Homo sapiens: one gene and its partners. The protein of the gene in region 5 purifies or fractionates together with the protein of the main gene of each other region. This does not show direct contact. Each region holds a gene or a part of one and is shown on either strand. Other genes may lie near its edges. The genes, in order: SMARCAD1, TRIM37, SORL1, GPALPP1 and ZNF816.

Region 1 (3,520 bases), on a different chromosome or scaffold from region 5:
TTAATTTGAGGATCATTCTAGTTTTTTAGGAGATTTATCTCATTTTAAGCACTGAGAATAAAGTTTGAGTTACCGGATATGCAATCAGGGTCTTTCAGTGATCTTAAGTCAGCAATATTTTTCATCCTTAAAGACATAAATATGTCAATGTTCACAGAAACAAAAAGAAACAGTTTGGATTCTTCTGACTGATGATGATAATTTTCAGATCAAGTCAAAATACAATGATAATTGCCTTAAGACCATTGTTATTGATATCTCTTAAATTGTTTTCTTTTTTTTTTCTCCCCATTAGGGAGAGGAATCAAATGAGTCTGCAGAATCTAGCAGTAATTGGGAAAAGCAGGAAAGTATTGTACTGAAATTGCAAAAGGAATTTCCCAATTTTGATAAACAGGTGAGTAGTCGTGTATGAAAATTTAATCAGTGTGTACTAAGTGTTTTTATTATAAAATAGTGTTAAGAGTTCAACCACATAAAAGCTTAGGGTGAGTTTTGTATTCTTCTAATTAAATGTTCTCCTTTTATCAATGTTATAAAGTATTTTCATACTGTTTATTTATGTTGTTTATTTACCTTGTTTACTATAGTATCTATACTGTATCCCTAAGTCATTAAAAAATAACCGTAATAAAAATTGTGAACTCATTTATAACATGTAAGTCATCTAGAAAGTCATCTGTAACCCTGCCCCCATCAAGTAACTGCTTAGTTTTTTTCATGTTCTCATTCTTGAAATTTCTTACAAGAATTTAAAAAGTATTCCATTTCAGTGTCTTAATATTTTATAAGCTTTCTACTACTTCCCAGATAGTGAGAATGTTTTCAGAGTCATTAAAAAAAAAGACTCATGCCACGCATCCTGTTGCTAAAAGGCCCTCTGTTTAATCCCATGATCATATATAGAAGCACATATTTGTTTAGCATTTAGAGTACATTTACACTTGCACTGATTTATTTGAGTATATATGTTCAGATAGTACATCTACTAAATTCTGATGAGCTGAATGCAAAATCTTGTTGCAATATTGGTTCTTTACCTTTGTTGAAACTACGTTTTGAAGTTAGCAGTTTGTAAAAGCCTAGCTGCATATTGAAATTTCATTTTTAATTGAGAAAACATTTCTTGATCCTCTAGTGTTCACAGTACTTCATAGTGAGCATTAGAAATGCAAAAAAATGTCAAGTTTTCTTTCCTTTGAAGACTATTGTGTATTTGTGGAGGTGAAATTACACAGAAAGCATTTGTAAAGCAGTGTAAAAACAAGTGCAAAATAATCAGATGTGAATTCTCTGTTTTCAGGTGATTAACTTATTTTTAAAAGAGCATAGACGTTTTCTGCAAGTTGCTAATTTGAGATTTTTAACAAAAAGATAAATGACTTATTTCTAGGAACTTAGAGAAGTACTCAAGGAACATGAATGGATGTACACAGAAGCTTTAGAATCTCTAAAAGTGTTTGCAGAAGACCAAGGTAATTATTCTGGGTCATAGAAAATACATACTTCTCATTATAGTCTGTATTTTAGTATATAAGAAAATGGTATATAAGAAAAGCTATTAGCTGTTAATCAGAGGGTGGGATTGCAAAAGATGTTGAAAGTAATGATGTAAAAACATTCTTTAACAACCAGTTTTTAAATGTTTTGACCTGCCTGTTCTTTATCATAGTGTAAAACAAAACAATAAATATCTTTTTCTATTTGTTCAGTCTTTCTTAATAGTTAAGGCTACTTTTAAATTGCCATGTTTTATTGAGTGTAAAATAACCTTTTTAACAACTGTCAGGATGGATCTTGTGATTGGTGATATCATGTCATTACTGTAATGTAGATGTCTTAGCCTATACTTGCACAGATATCAAAAGCACTAGCATCAAAAACTTAAGGGTATCATAGGCATGAACACATTTTGGAACACTCTTAATTCTAGGAACCAAATGATAGAGGAGAGGTGGTAAGGAAGAGTTGAGTCATACATGTTTAGTAACATACCTAAGGAAGAATCAAGTAGACTAGCTCTTCATAATTGCAAACCCAGCATGGTAGCTTTTGGTGTTTTGGTTTGGGTTTTTTTGTTTGTTTGTTTTTAATAAATTGTTTTAAAAGGCTATACTACCAATACTGTTGATGGCACAGAAAATGATATTCTGTGGCAAAAAGAAAGCCACCAAATATGAGTTTGAAAAATGAGTCAGAAGAGCCATGTTATGAATGTGAAAACATTTGAGGAATACTTTAGCCAATTCATTTTGCTTATTTTTTATAAATGCACAAAAATAAAGGTATGATAATCTGTGTAAGTCTAATAGCTTTCTGAGTAAGTAAAAATTTCTGAATAAAGTATTGTATTATAGATTGGTGCATGTTTTCTCACTGGTACATAAAATAATGGTGTTACCTTCATTCACAGGCATCTTAGAATTCTGTAAACTGATAATCAGTGATAAAGTAGTGGGGCTTTTTGATAATACTGTATTTGAATAATTTTTTTTATTTTTTATTTTTTTTGAGACGGAGTCTTGCTCTGTCGCCCAGGCTGGAGTGCAGTGGCACAGTCTCGGCTAACTGCAACCTCCACCTCCCAGGTTCAAGCGATTCTCCTGCCTCAGCCTTCTGAGTAGCTGGGATTACAGGCATGCACCACCATGCCTGGCTAATTTTTATATTTTTAGTAGAGACAGGGTTTCACCATGTTGGTCAGGCTGGTCTCGAACTCCTGACCTTGTGATCTGCCCGCGTCGGCCTCCCAAAGTGCTGGGATTACAGGCGTGAGCCACCATGCCCAGCCTATTTGAATAATTTTTTAAGTAACGATGCAACTTAGAATATTGAAGATAGTATTGGAAAATTATGGATAGTTGAAACATACACACTTTTTATTAGTAAGCTTTATAGTAGTGTAAGCATCATTCTGCTATATTCTTCAGTGTTGGCATAGTTGAGTGGGGCTGCTAGGAATATCTGAGACATCATACAGATACGCAGCTGCCATTTGTGTTCTCAGGACCTTTGTTAGAAAACAGAGATTTATATTTAATTCATTTTAAAAACAAGTTATCACCTGCTTTTGAAACAATTGTTTAACTTCAAATTCTACTTAAGTATTTTTAAAGTGTATCAAATTTAACAATAAATTGTCGTTGAATTCTTCTGTATTCAATAGGAATAGGTAAATGTTTTAAGTTTTTATTTGAAGTCTATCTTTATATTTATGTATTTCTAATTTAGTTACTGTTTTTGTCTTTTATATACAGATATGCAATATGTATCACAAAGTGAGGTTCCAAATGGAAAAGAAGTTTCTTCAAGAAGTCAAAATTACCCTAAAAATGCAACTAAAACAAAACTAAAACAGAAATTTTCAATGAAAGCACAAAATGGCTTTAACAAGAAACGTAAAAAAAATGTTTTTAATCCAAAGAGAGTTGTTGAAGACTCTGAATATGATTCAGGTTCTGATGTCGGTAGTTCACTAGATGAGGACTATAGTAGTGGTGAAGAAGTGATGGAGGATGGC
Region 2 (3,520 bases), on a different chromosome or scaffold from region 5:
AGGAGTTTGAGAGCAGCCTGGCCAATATGGTGAAATCCTATCTCTACTAAAAATACAAAAATTAGCCGGGCTGTGGTGGCACGCGCCTGTAATCCCAGCTACTCAGGAGGCCAAGGCAGGAGAATCGCTTGAATCCGGCAGGTGGAGGTTGCAGTGAACCGAGATTATGCCACTGCACCCCAGCCTGGGCGACATAGCAAGACCCTATCTCAAAAATAATAATAAAGTAAATAAAAACAACAGCCCTGTTTAACGTGGGGTAGTCTTTACAGGTCAGAAGTTTTTGGGCATTGGCTGGGTGCCGTGGCTCACGCCTGTAATCCCAGCACTTTGGGAGGCTGAGGTGGGTGGATCACCTGAGGTCAGGAGTTCAAGATCAGCCTGGGCAACATGGTGAAACCCTGTCTCTACTAAAAATACAAAAATTAGCTGGGCATGGTGGCAGGCACTTGTAATCCCAGCTACTTGGGAAGCTGAGGCAGTTGAATCGCTTGAGTCCGGGAGGCAGATGTTGCAGTGAGCCGAGATTTCACCAGTGCACTCCAGCCTGGGCGACAAGAGTGAAACTCCATCTTAAAAAAACAAAAAACAAACAAAAAAAGGTTTTTGGGTATCATTACATGATGTTATAATTTGATGATCAAAATAAGAACTTGAATATTTAAAAAAGATTAAAATATGTTCTGAACTGAGAAGTTTCAGAGTATTTAACAGTTTAAAAAGTTCTCATCACAACAATTTTAAACATTTTTTTCTTGAGAGTGATTTAATGTACTCCTGAATTTCCCTTATTCGGAGCTCTTTGTTCTTGAGCATACTGGACAGATGAGTTGCTATCATATCAGCATTTACTCTTATGTGTTTTCCGTAGCTTTTCTGGAAGTATAAAGAAGTTTAACAAGGGATATGATTTTCAGTGTAGGGAAAAAGATATGTTTTTGTTATTGTTTTGTTTTGTTTAGAGTCAGTGTCTTGCTATATTGCCCAGTCTAGTCTAGAATTCTCGGGCTCAAGTGATCCTCCTGTCTCAACTTCCCAAGTAGGTAGGATTACAGGTGCATGCCACGGTGCCTGGAATCATGTTTTTTGAGGGGAGGGATTATTTTAGTTTTCTTCGTATAGCTTTTCAGACTTTTGGGGTTTAACTATTCACCAAGAGAAATAATTTATTGCTATTTCATGCTTCAGCCATAGAGAGAATTACAAAATTATTCAAACATCAATTTTACCAACCTATAAAAGACCCATTTTCTTATAGCCTTGATTTCATCCTTATTAGCGTTACTTATTAGTACAGAAACAAATTCCTGTTATGACATCATTTTTTTTAAGCAACATTGAGTCTATACCATATGCCTGACACTGAGTTGCTAATAAGAAAAATATAGACATGGTTTTTGTCCACAGGGAACTCAAGATGAAATTGGCAGATAAAAACAGAATTTACTACTCTCTTATTATAAAATAATGCTATAGTAGCACCGTAAGTAAATTGCTATGAAGTTTGTGGATAGGGGGCTTCACATTATCCTATTAATGAGACATTGCTCAAACTTTAAACCTTTTATTTCAAGATTCTGGTGGAATTTTGTATGTATTTATTAGAAAGTTATTTAAGGCTTTTCTATAACTATGAATGTATGTTTCATTCTTTCATTAAAACAGAAAGTTAAGAAATTTTACCTGCTGCTTGGTTTTGTTTTAATGGCAAAATATTAGAACTAATGTGCAGAGTTAACCAGTGGTTTAAATCATTCAAAGAAAATAATAGTGTTTAGACGGTCTTACTTTAATGTCTTACCAGTGGGTACTTCCTAGACTGTGAATCGTCTCTGCTCAGTTGAGTGAATCATCTCTACTCAGTTCCGTTCAGAACGTAATTTAATCTCTTGATTTGATTTGATTTGATTTGATTTGATTTGATTTGATTTGATTTTTTGAGACAGAGTTTCGCTCTGTTGCCCAGGCTGGAGTGCAGTGGTGCGATCTCGGCTCACTGCCACCTTTGCCTCCCAGATTCAAGCGATTCTCCTGCCTCAGCCTCCTGAGTAGCTGGGATTACAGGCGCCCGCCACCATACCCGGCTAATTTTTGTACTTTTAGTAGAGACGGGGTTTCACCATGTTGGCCACGCTGGTCTCGAACTCCTGACCTTAGGTGATCTGCCCACCTCGGCCTCCCAAAGTGCTAAGATTACAGGTGTGAGCCACTGTGCCCGGCCAATCTCTCTCTTTTTTTAATACTCAAGTTCTCATTTTGATCATCCAGTTATAACATATAATGATGCCCAAAAACTTCTGACCTATAAAGACTATCCCAACATTAAATAGGACTGTTGTTTTATAGTCAGTGTTTATGTTCTGTCCTTTCTTGCATTAGTATTCTTCACTAAAACTAGATATCTACTGCCAGATAACTGTTAAATGGTCAGTAGGTTCTTACAATAAGGTGTAAAATCCTAGAAAAAAATGAACAGCTAACATTGTGTAGCCGGGTAAAAGGGCTGGAAGGAATGAGAGAGATGTAGATGTCCAAATTAGTCTTGCCTTGTGGTTTTTCCTTTCTTCAAAAACACCTTCACACATGCACTGCAATTTTTTCACCTTAAATATAGTCACGTTAGGCTATGTAACAAAGGTAGAGGTTTGTTTGCTTTAGTAATAGTTTTTTTTTTTTTTTTAATTAAAACAACTCTGGATAGATTAAGATTCTGTCATTTATATATTAATACGATTTTATGTAGGTGCAGTACTTTTTTTCCTAACCTAAGCTGAAATAATGCCATATTGTAATAAGGGCAGTTTTGATTGCTATCTTGAAGGGTTCAGGATATAGTTTATTTAGAGCATGTAACTCCTTGGGGGATAGTAAAGCAATCCTGGGTGGTTGAGCCAGGAAGTGATTTTTTTTCTGAGGGGCAGGAAATACGGGAACGTGAGATGGAATAGAGAAATATAAAGAGCAGCACTTAAAACTTTGTATTTTGCTACAAAAAATTAGCCGGGCGTAGTGGCGGGCGCCTGTAGTCCCAGCTACTTGGGAGGCTGAGGCAGGAGAATGGCGTGAACCCGGGAGGTGGAGCTTGCAGTGAGCCGAGATCCCGCCACTGCACTCCAGCCTGGGCGACAGAGCGAGACTCCGTCTCAAAAAAAAAAAAAACTTTGTATTTTGCTGGGGCCTCATTTAGGGAAGAAAGGGATAAGAGTTATCTTCCTCCTTATAGGAGGAAACTGCATAGTATATGGCTCTCTTCTTCCCAACTCATGATCATCATTGTATTTTAGTTACATTATTATAATAAATATGCCTGAGTAGGTTAGTTTGGGAAGCTTAACTACAATGTACAATGTTATTTCTTTAGAAAGGTAGTTTGAGGACAACTGGCTTTTCAGAACCTTGTGTCATAATCTGTGGACTACATCTATAAACAACAAATACTAGCAGCTCTAAGTTTATGTGAATTTTGGCCTTATAATCAAGTTAACCCAAATTGCAGAATTCAGTGCTAGACTGATAATGT
Region 3 (3,520 bases), on a different chromosome or scaffold from region 5:
GCTCAGACACTGTCCAGCTTCTTGCCCTCTGACCTTTGAGTGAGGTTAAGAGGACACTGGCAGCACAGGTTAGGGCTGGAAGCAGAAGCTGCCTGAAGGAAGCAGGCCTAGAGGCGATGTTAAGGCCACCACCTTCAGGGAGAAGAGAAGGGAAGGCTTTCTAGGGGAATACTTGCATCTGAGAAAGAGCCCTGTGCTGGAGTCAATGTCGGTCCTTTTTCCTCTGCTTCGCTAATGTCTTGGGTAAACTAGGCTTGGTTATTTTGACCATTTTCCTCCTCAGTTTCTCTAAGGTGGGGAGACCGGCTTCTGCCATGATTACTTAAAGGCACATTTATGATACTGAAATGTGATTGTAGGGGTGAAAATAATTTGCTGGCAGATATCAGGACTTTTCTGCCCATGTTCAAGGCTCACGCCTGTAATCCCAGCACTGTGGGAGGCCGAGGCGGGTGGATCACTTGAGGTCAGGAGTTCGAAACCAGCCTGGTCCACATGGGGAAACCCCGTCTCTACTAAAACTACAAAAATTCACTGGGCGTGGTGGCAGATGCCTGTAGTCCTGGCTACTCAAGAGGCTGAGGCAGGAGAATCGCTTGAACCCCGGAGGCGGAGGTTGCAGTGAGCCGAGATCGCGCCATTGCACTCCAGCCTGGGGGACAGAGTGAGACTCCATCTAAAAAAAAAAAAAAAAAAGGCAAAGTTTAGAAGTTGAGCCCCTTCTTAAAGGCCAGGTCCAAGAAGAGGGATTCCCTAATTCATGCCACACTGAATTTCCTCCTGATTTCTCATAAGCTCTGTCTGTCTGCGCCATCATACCTGCTTTTTCCTCTGCCTGAAATGATCTTCCCCAACTCTTGTCCTTGCCTGGGAAGCTCTTATTCCATTCTTTAACATCCAAGGAATACCTCTTGGTATTCTCAGGCTATGGTGGGAAGAGTTTCTTCTGAGCTTGGAGGCAGCACTTACTGCCTTGTGTTAGAATTGCTCAACTGTCTCATCTTCCTGTTTGCTCCTTGAGGGCATGGATCAAGTTCTCTTGTGTTTCCCTGGCACTTGGGAGGCCCTTAATGAGTATTTGTGGACCAGCCACACACCTGGAAGAAGAGAGGCCCAGAGGGTAGGAAGCACATTCACATTATATAAAATGTATTTGTAAGGAGGAATACAGTGAACCCACACATGGATAGTGAAAATGAGATGGCTCATTCGGTAGTGAGGATGCAAGCGGCATGGCCTACAGATAGTGGAGCCCTGATTTGCCTGTGCTATATGGGAGTTATTTTCAATGAAGAGCTTGGATTCTATTTTACAGAATCCTCCCTTTTAGGGCTATCATTCTGGTTTATGCTAATGGTATTGTTTTGGGGAAAAATCCTTTGGAATAAAGCACAAAGCCTAACAGGATTTACAGGTTTATTTTCCTTCCAACAAGCTCTCTCTTCATAATTCCTACATTTTAGAAGCCAGGGAGTATTCAGTGTCCTGATTTGAGACTGAAAATAAAGTGTCTATTACAGCACAAGGCCCTGGGACAAAAGGCCTCCTTTGGGGGTGGAATACCGTTCAGCTTTAGATCTCTTTTGAGTAGATTCTTCCATGATACACTTGCTTGGGAAAGAATTGGCTGGTTGATTCTGAAGTTAGGATGTTTGACCTGTGTGCTTCCAGAATAAGATGAGAAGGCAAAGAATGTGCTGCTTCAGGTTGGCTTTTATGTAGCTGAAGAGTTGCTCGGGGCCTTGGGTTGGCTCAATAAGGGACGTGACCTTGAAAAGCTCTTCCTGGTTCCACTTGGCGTCTTTTCTTAGGGAGCTCTGTGCCCAGTCTCTGGCCGCTTTTAGTTCATAAATAGCTTGCATGGTTAGAGGCACAGAAGGTGGAGGCTTTGCGAGGGGGAAGGAATGGAGGAAAGGGGTTGGTGAGAAGAGTAAGGAGGCGGAATTTGGAGGGATGAAATAAAAAGCTGTCTGATTAGGTAATGCACGTTTACAAAACAAAATTTGTACAAAAGCGTATGTGGTAACAAATTTCCTTCCCTCTCATGCCCCCTGTTCACCCAGAGCTCCTTTCCGGGTGGCATCCGTTGTTATCAATATTTTTGTATATCTTTCCAGAAACAGTCTATGCATGTACAACATGTATGTACATAAAATTGGAAACTTGAATTATAAATGGCTTCCTGTTACCTGTAGTCCCTGGTATCCTGAATAATGAGATTAACTTTAGCTCTAAATTATATTTGTGATATTATGATGGTGAATTGTTAGAAAATTACCTGAAGTATCATAATATAAAATAGATGATTACTTTTTTTCCAGGCCAGGTGAGAAAAACCTCATTCTCCTTTCACTTCAAGCGTTCTTGCAGAGCAGGAGAGCAGCCTGATGTAGCCCCCTTGTAACTTGGAGAGATGCTGGAGCACAGTTCCCTTGAGATGTGGAGTCCAGGCTTGTAAGAGCATCAGAATACAGTGATCATGGATCTTGGTTTTAATTTGTGTTCTGTCTGAGAATGTTTTCTCTATGTTCTGTAAAATGAAGTTAATGGTATGCTTAATAAATTGCTTTGAGACTTGGGATCCACGAGGCAGATCCTTATAGCAACGAACATCCCAAGGCAAAAGGTGGATGTTGTAGGAACATTTCATTGTCAGATTTTGGTCTGTTCCTCCTTAGAGATGACAGCCATCTTCATAGTGTCATTGTTGAATCCCAGGGCAGAGATAGTTGGAGCCAGCTTTGTTCCACCCACTGTAATGGAGGGACACAGGGGGCAGTCTTATCATAATCTGGAGAGCAGGTAATCCAAAAAATAATCGATTTGCTTTTGCTATGTATTTATGTAGTCTTTTTTTTAAAGCATTCGTTTACCTTCCTAATTAAGTTTTGCTCAGGTGAATATTAAAATGAGTTTGCATTCTTTGATCTATTGATAAGGGAAATGGCTGGCCTAAATGTATTCAGGGAAAGGCAGTTTGGAGTTTAGAATTTGCGACAATAATTCAGATGCAGATAATTGAGAGTTGATAAAAATGTATTAAATGTTTTAAATGAATAAAAATGTATTAAAACCTGGGGGCATTACATTGACCTTTCCTCCATTTATTTGGATTTAAATAAATGTGATGGAAAGTAAAAGAGAGCTCACTGCATTTTTGGTTTGAATATTCAGGGATTAGTATTTCTCCAGAGGTGGTCTGGGCTGTGGGGGTGAGGCATTCTCTGTTGATGAGCATGGGACTTTCCTATGCATTTTCTAGGTATGCCAGACACTGTTGGCAGATGGTATAGTCAGTCTAGCCACGTACATGCAAAAATCAATTTCCCTCAATTTAAAATGAGCCACAGTTAATTTCGACCTAATTTATTGGCTTATCGACCTGTGAACCCTGGGCCTTCGAAGAAGTGGCATGGGCGGCCTTCAAGCGCTGAAGTGGCTGATGAAGCTAAAATCCAGAAAAGGCAGGGTGGGCTGCTGAGCAAGATCAAGATTTGAGTTTCCTCCTGTGTTATTGTGA
Region 4 (3,288 bases), on a different chromosome or scaffold from region 5:
GCTCTTTCTTTCACACCCCGTTCTTGGTTTGTACTCTGATGTTTAGTATTTAAATAACCATAATGCTTTTCATTACATATTTTCTTTATAAATGCTGTCTTGGATTTGGAAAAAAAAAAACTACTGGGGTTTGTAAATAGCCCTCCTTAATGTGCACCATTACTATCTATTCCGTTTCATGGTCATATTCTGTCAATAATCTATATACAAACTATAGTTTTTATTTCTGCTCTCCTGCTCTCTCCAGGAATCAAAAAGATCAGAATCTCTTATGGACATACATCATAAAAAGTTAAAGAGTAAGGCTGCTGAAGACAAAAATAAGCCTCAAGAGAGAATACCATTTGACCGTGATAAAGATCTCAAGGTTAATCGGTTTGATGAAGCTCAGAAAAAAGCCCTAATAAAAAAATCTAGAGAACTAAACACCAGATTTTCACACGGCAAAGGCAATATGTTTTTATAAGTAAGTATATTTCAGTGAGGTATATTTTAATACTGATCAATGTGAACTTTTCTAAATACTCTATTGTCTTTAATAATTGTGCTGAAATCTATTTCCTTTTATAATAGATTAAAAATTTTATATTTTTATAAGTAAACAGTGATTTTTGAAAAGTCAGCCTTGTGGGATGAAAAATATGTCTTACTGGAAAAATCCCTCATAATAACCTAATAGGGCATTGCTATTAAAAATGCTAAAATAAAAATTCAGCTTATGAGAAATGGCAAAGGAAGGTGTGGTTTGATACTTGAGTAAATATGCATGCTTTATTAAAGATGAAGAAAGGCTTGCTGGTTGTTTGTATGTTAAACAAAATCCCAACTAGGAAATGTTTGTTGCTTAGAAAGGTCCCCTATAAGTTAAGGTTCAAAACTATTCCAATATTCATCCATAGCCCAATCTGACAAGGGTTCAGAATGGTGATTAAGAAATTACATAAAGCTGGGTGCAGTGGCTCACGCCTGTAATCCCAACACTTTGGGAGGCCAATGTGAGAGGATCGCTTGAGCCCAGTAGTTTGAGACCAGCCTGCTTAAGATGGTGAGACCCCGTATCTACAAAAAACTAACCAGGTGCAGTGGAGCACACCTATAGTCCCAGCTACTCAGCAGGCTGAGGTGGGAGGATCCCTTGAGCCCAGGAATTCAAGGCAGCAGTGAGCTGTGATTGTGCCATTGCACTCCAGTCTGGGCAACAAAGTGAGACCTCGTCTCTTTAGAAAAAAAAAAAGAGGCCAGTGGCTCACACCTGTAATCCCAGCACTTTGGGAGGGTGAGGCGGGTGGATCACCTGAGGTCAGGAGTTCGAGACCAGCCTGAACAACATGGTGAAACCCCATCTCTATTAAAAATATATATATATAAAAATTAGCCAGGTGTGGTGGCACGTGCCTGTAATCTCAGCTACTTGGGAGCCTGAGGCAGGAGAATTGCTTGAACCCGGGAGGTGGAGGTTACAGTGAGCCGAGATCGTGCCACTGCACTCTAGCCTAGGTGACAAGATCGAGAGACTCTGTCTCAAAAAAGAAAGAAAAAGAGAAGAAAAGAAATTACATAAAAGCTGAGGTTGCTTCTTAATATCTTTATGATTTTTAATTGTATTAAACCTATATCAATATTCAAATGTGATTTTTGAGGAAAATATGTTAAATTTAGAAATATTTTCCAACTTACTGAGTTTTCTTATTCTTACCTCAGGGGGATTTCCCTGTGCAATGAAGAAAAGTTGAAGAATACTCTTTGTCCATCTTTATTTCTTTGTTTTTGGCTTCTTAAGATTAGAGATTACTTTAATCTTAAAAAACATACAAATTTACCTTGTTCTGTATGTCCTTTTAAGGTCATGTGGAAACATAAAACGAATGTTTTTTATGTAGAACAGAATATTCTATGTGCCTTTAGCTTCTGTGGAAGTATGGGGAATTATGGGCTTTTCTTCAAATAATTATTTTAAGAGGCTTCCATTCCCCCTGATTTTTGTGGTGTCTCACAAGTACCCTCTAAGGTCTGGTCAGGACTGACCACCAAATCTCTACCACAGCCTGGACCTCCTTGTGAAATATACCTAACCTGCCCTAGAGTCAGTGTGTCAAGTCCTTACTGTAAATCCATGACTTTGAAATTTGTTGTTTTTTCCCTTTAAACTGCAGCCAGTGAATACAAATTTACTTGAAAATAGAGGGTATGGGGTTTTGCCTGTTTTGTAATCAGTTTGCTTGTTTTAGCACTCAGGGCTTTTTATTTGTTATTTAATTTTTTAATTGTTTTTAAGTCAGAAAGATCTCTGGGTTATCTCATGTGCTAAGGAAAAACTATTTTGCTTTTTCCAACTTTAATAGTTAGTATTTCTAGGGGAGGCAATCAAGATAAGATATGCCATTAACTGTTAGCATTGTGAAATCTGTAAGACTCAATCTCTGATCTCAACCAAAGCTTTCTGAGTCCTGGAACTTTGCTTTGGGACAACTTTACTTTACCCATTTATATGCTGTACTTAACAGTTTGTAGCTAATTTATGGGGTCATATCTTTTTTTTAGCTAATTTACGGGGGTCATATCAGTCATGAATAGCCTTTTTTAAAAATTTAATAATCCCTGAATACAAAAATGGAAATGGAAAATTTATAATCATAACCCCCCTAATTGGGAGTATTATAAGTTTGTAATGCTTTAAGCACTGCCTCTTAAGATGATAAATTTATAAGATGAGAAATTCTATTTAAACTATTAAACTATTGTTAAATAAATGCCAATTCTATAAGTTATATTTTCTTGCAGATTAATCCCAATTGTTCCACTAGTATTCTAGTTTTGATGAGACACAAATTTTTGTTGTTGTTTATTTTTGTTTTTTTGAGAGATGGAGTCTTGCTCTGTCACCCAGGCTGGAGTAGAGTGGCGTGATCTCAGCTTACTGCAACCTCCGCCTCCTGGGTTCAAGCGATTCTCCTGCCTCAGTGTCCCAAGTAGCTGGGACTACAGGCGTGCACCACCATGCTCAGCTAATTTTTGTATTTTTTAGTAGAGATGGGGTTTCACTATATATTGTTCCAGGCTGGTCTCGAACTCCAGACCTCAGGTGATCTACCTGCCTCGGCCTCCCAAAATGCTGGGATTACAGGCATCAGCCACCATGCCTGGCCAAGACACAAATTTTTAATGGAAAAATATTCTGATTCCCAGTTCATGTAAGCTTTATGAAAATTGAGTATATTGTTTATATGATGGTACAAATTATTCTTCCTCTAATAATAGCAGTACAGTATATTTTTTCCATAGCATCAG
Region 5 (3,520 bases):
GGAGTTTGGTTAGGGCTAGATCTGTGCCCTGAAGATCTGTGTCCTGCTGCAGCGTGTGTGTGGACTTTTCCAGGAGGGGAGCAAGATCTGAAAACGGGTCAAAATTACATTTGTAGGTCTTCCTGTGGAACTTTCTTATCTCTGCATGGTCTCTGGTGCAGTGGGTAGCAAAGGACCATCTTTCTCTCGGGTGAGGTTTCCCCTGTGTGTGTGTTTTGTCACAGGAAAGGAGTCAATGGTTTCTAAATATTAAATCTCTTGCTTTTTTAACATACAGGATTTCCAAAGACTCATGTTACGTGAGGAAGCCACCAAGAAGAGCAAAGAAAAGGAGCCAGGGATGGCTCTTCCTCAGGTAAGTGATATTCCTTGGTGGATTCTTCTGTCTCTTTCCTTTCTGAAGTGCCAGGTATTGTAGTAGCCAATCTTCTCTGAGTGTGAAGCATTCTACATCACACGTTTGCTCGCACTCACCCGTGTCTTTTCTCAGTCCCTCTCATCTTCACTTAAATTCCATCTCCTATAACCTAGTGACATGAGCTTGGGAAGAGGCTCCACTGGGCATGGTCCTGGGAAGGGCTCACACCAGACATGGATGGAGATGGGGTGTGGGCCCCATGGTGTCAGTGATGTTGGGCAGCAGGGATTGTTCAGGGGCCACATCTGGATGCATGTTTAGCTCTTTGTGGACCAGATCAGAGAAACTGTATATGAAAGTCATACATTAATGTTCACTGGTTAATCTGGTAAATTCTGGAAGAGGAGACAAACTAGGGGAGATATTTTGTGTCTGATTTTGTAATGCATTTGAAGCTACACTAGTGAGTCAATATGTCTCTGACGCCAAACTTTTGTTTTAAGAGACACGGTGTCACTCTGGGGCCCAGTCTGGAGTGCAATGGCACAATTCTAGTTTACAGCAGCCTCGAACTCCTGGGCTTAAGTGGCCCTCCCACCTGAGCTTCCCAAATTGCTGGGATTACAGGTGTGAGACAGCCCAGCAGGACTCTGCACTTTCAATGTCTTAGAATAGAATGGAAAGCGGATATAGATACCAGTAATAGAGTTAGCTTTATTCCATCATTGACTTCAAATTATGAAATCAATATAAATATCTAACTGCAGGGGATTCTTTAAATCATTCTCAGCACTTTGACCCCACAGAGACTTTTTTTTTGTTTTTTGTTTTGTTTTGTTTTTTTTACAGGGACTCTGATGAAGCAAACATTTTAGGTAAAAATGATTATAAGTTTGCTCTGACATAAGAGCACAACTTACGTCGTTAGAGAGGATGGAGCCATTCTTTTTCTACCCATTATTATTAAGTAATTCTTTTATTTTAAACATCACATGATGTATATATGTGTTGTGTAGTAAAAGTCCAAAGAAAAGTGCACTTATGCATCCCCTTTCCTGTCCAGCCTTCCACCCATTCCCATGTCTCAGTGGGGAATCGCTGTTGAGAGTTCTGTGGCAAGTCGGCGCAATCCTTTAGAAATGTATTCATATACCGTTATGAGATTTTAGAAAAAATTATTTGATGAATGGGGTTTTTTTTTTTTTTTTTTGCATGTTTTTTGAGACAGGGCCTCCCCGCCTGGAGTGTAGTGGCACATTGCAACCTCTGGCTCTCAGGTTCAAATGAGTCTTACGCTTCAGCCAACTGAGTAGCTGCATTTACAGATGCGTGCTACACTCCTGGCTAATTGTTGTGTTATTAGTACAGATGGGGTTTCACCATGTTGGCCAGGCTGGTCTCGAACTTTTGGCCTCAAGTGATCCTTCCACGTCGGCCTCCCTAAGTGCTGGGATTTCAGGTGTGAGCCCTGCTCCCGGTCTGATGAATGTTTGTTATGATATTTTATCCTGCAAGTTCTGAAAATTTTCATGTTTCCAAGGTAGAAAACAAGATAGCTCACTCTTTTAAATCCTCCTTGGAGCTTTCTCTGAATGAAGACTCATGAGTCCTTGACAGTTTTGTTTCATTTCTTTTTTGTTGTTGTTGTTTGTTTGTTTTTTTTGAGACGGAGTTTCATTCTTGTGGCCCAGGCTGGAGTGCAGTGGCACGATATCGGCTCACTGCAACTTCCACCTCCCAGGTTCAGTAGCTGGGAATATAGGCATGCGCCACCATTCCCAGCTAACTTTGTATTTTTAGTAGAGACAGAATTTGTCCATGTTCTTCAGGCTGGTGTCAAACTCCTGACTTTAGGTTATCCACCTGCCTGAGCCTCCCAAAGTGCTGGGATTACAGGTGTACCTACTGTGTGCAGCCAATCCCACGGTTTATGTAGAAAATACATTATTTGCAATATATATATACCTTTTTTTTTTTTTTTTTGAGAAAGAGTCTCAGTCTGTTGCTCAGGCAGGATTGCAATGGTGTGACCTTGGCTTACTGCAACCCCTGCTTCCAGAGTTCAGGCGATTTTCCTGTTTCAGCTTCCTGAATAGTTGGGATTACAGGCACCTCCCTACCATGCTCAGCCAATTTTTTTATTTTTAGTAGATACGGAGTTTTGCCATGTTGGAGAGGTTGGTCTCTAACTCCTGACCTTAAGTGATCCACCCACCTTGGTCTCCCAAAGTGATGGGATTACAGGTGTGAGCCACCATGTCTGGACTTATTTTATATATATATATAAAATATATATTATATATATTTAATATCTTTATTTAATAATATATTTATTATACAATATTATATATAATATATGATACAATATTGTAATATATATTATATATAATATTGTATCATATATATTTTATAAATACATATTATATATAATATTGTATTATATATTATATTTTATAAATACATATTATATATAATATTGTATTATATATTATATATTATAAATATATATTATATATAATTAAATATTAAAATATATATTATATATTTATATATAATATATATAAGTATATATTATATATATAAAACATATGTGTATGTGTGTATATATATATTTTTTTTCTTTTTTTTTTTGAGATGGAGTCCTACTCTGCAGCCCAAGCTGGAGTGCAATGGCACGATCTTGGCTCACTGCAACATTCGTCTCTTGTTCTCAAGTTATTCTCGTGCATCAGCCTCCCAGGTAGCTGGGACTAGAGGCGTGTGCCACCACACCTGGTTTTTTTTTTGTATTTTTAGTAGAGACGGGGTTACACCATATTGTCCTGGGCTCGAACTCCTGAGCTCAGGAGATCCACCTGCCTTGGTCTCACAAAGTGCTGGGATTTTAGGCATGAGCCACCATTCCTGGCCTTATATTGTCCATAAAACTGAGACTTCCACAGTGACTTAGGGGATTTTAAAAGCTATCATGAAAAAGTACAATAAAATGCAACTATACTGAAAAATTGTTCAAAAATACCTTAACATAAATTTGTCAGAACACAGTCTTGGATCAAATCAATACTTATTTTCTGTTTTCTCATTTCACGTGAGGGCAATAACTCACTCCTCCATAATGTTTTGTTGAAACGTGTTTTTTATTTTAGGGACGCTTGACTTTCA

What was found.
Region 1: the proteins of ZNF816 (region 5) and SMARCAD1 purify together in Homo sapiens (affinity purification with mass spectrometry; 2 studies listed by BioGRID and IntAct, with this or other methods). This does not show direct contact.
Region 2: the proteins of ZNF816 (region 5) and TRIM37 purify together in Homo sapiens (affinity purification with mass spectrometry; 2 studies listed by BioGRID and IntAct, with this or other methods). This does not show direct contact.
Region 3: the proteins of ZNF816 (region 5) and SORL1 purify together in Homo sapiens (affinity purification with mass spectrometry; one large-scale study listed by BioGRID and IntAct). This does not show direct contact.
Region 4: the proteins of ZNF816 (region 5) and GPALPP1 purify together in Homo sapiens (affinity purification with mass spectrometry; 2 studies listed by BioGRID and IntAct, with this or other methods). This does not show direct contact.

Annotation. Positions count from the first base shown.
Region 1 is NC_000004.12:94,249,359-94,252,878, forward strand, and holds part of SMARCAD1 (SWI/SNF-related matrix-associated actin-dependent regulator of chromatin subfamily A containing DEAD/H box 1), read left to right. Parts: intron 1-295; coding exon 296-397; intron 398-1,303; exon of another isoform or gene 1,304-1,393; coding exon 1,394-1,475; intron 1,476-3,257; coding exon 3,258-3,520. UniProt on the Homo sapiens protein: DNA helicase that possesses intrinsic ATP-dependent nucleosome-remodeling activity and is both required for DNA repair and heterochromatin organization.
Region 2 is NC_000017.11:59,051,374-59,054,893, reverse strand, and holds part of TRIM37 (E3 ubiquitin-protein ligase TRIM37), read left to right. Parts: intron 1-3,520. UniProt on the Homo sapiens protein: E3 ubiquitin-protein ligase required to prevent centriole reduplication. Probably acts by ubiquitinating positive regulators of centriole reduplication.
Region 3 is NC_000011.10:121,455,314-121,458,833, forward strand, and holds part of SORL1 (sortilin-related receptor preproprotein), read left to right. Parts: intron 1-3,520. UniProt on the Homo sapiens protein: Sorting receptor that directs several proteins to their correct location within the cell. Along with AP-1 complex, involved Golgi apparatus - endosome sorting.
Region 4 is NC_000013.11:45,027,538-45,030,825, forward strand, and holds the end of GPALPP1 (GPALPP motifs-containing protein 1), read left to right. Parts: intron 1-247; coding exon 248-466; 3' UTR 467-2,768; downstream 2,769-3,288.
Region 5 is NC_000019.10:52,952,862-52,956,381, reverse strand, and holds part of ZNF816 (zinc finger protein 816), read left to right. Parts: intron 1-277; 5' UTR 278-292; coding exon 293-355; intron 356-3,504; coding exon 3,505-3,520. Other genes in the region: ZNF816-ZNF321P (ZNF816-ZNF321 protein), read left to right, coding at 293-355, 3,505-3,520. UniProt on the Homo sapiens protein: May be involved in transcriptional regulation.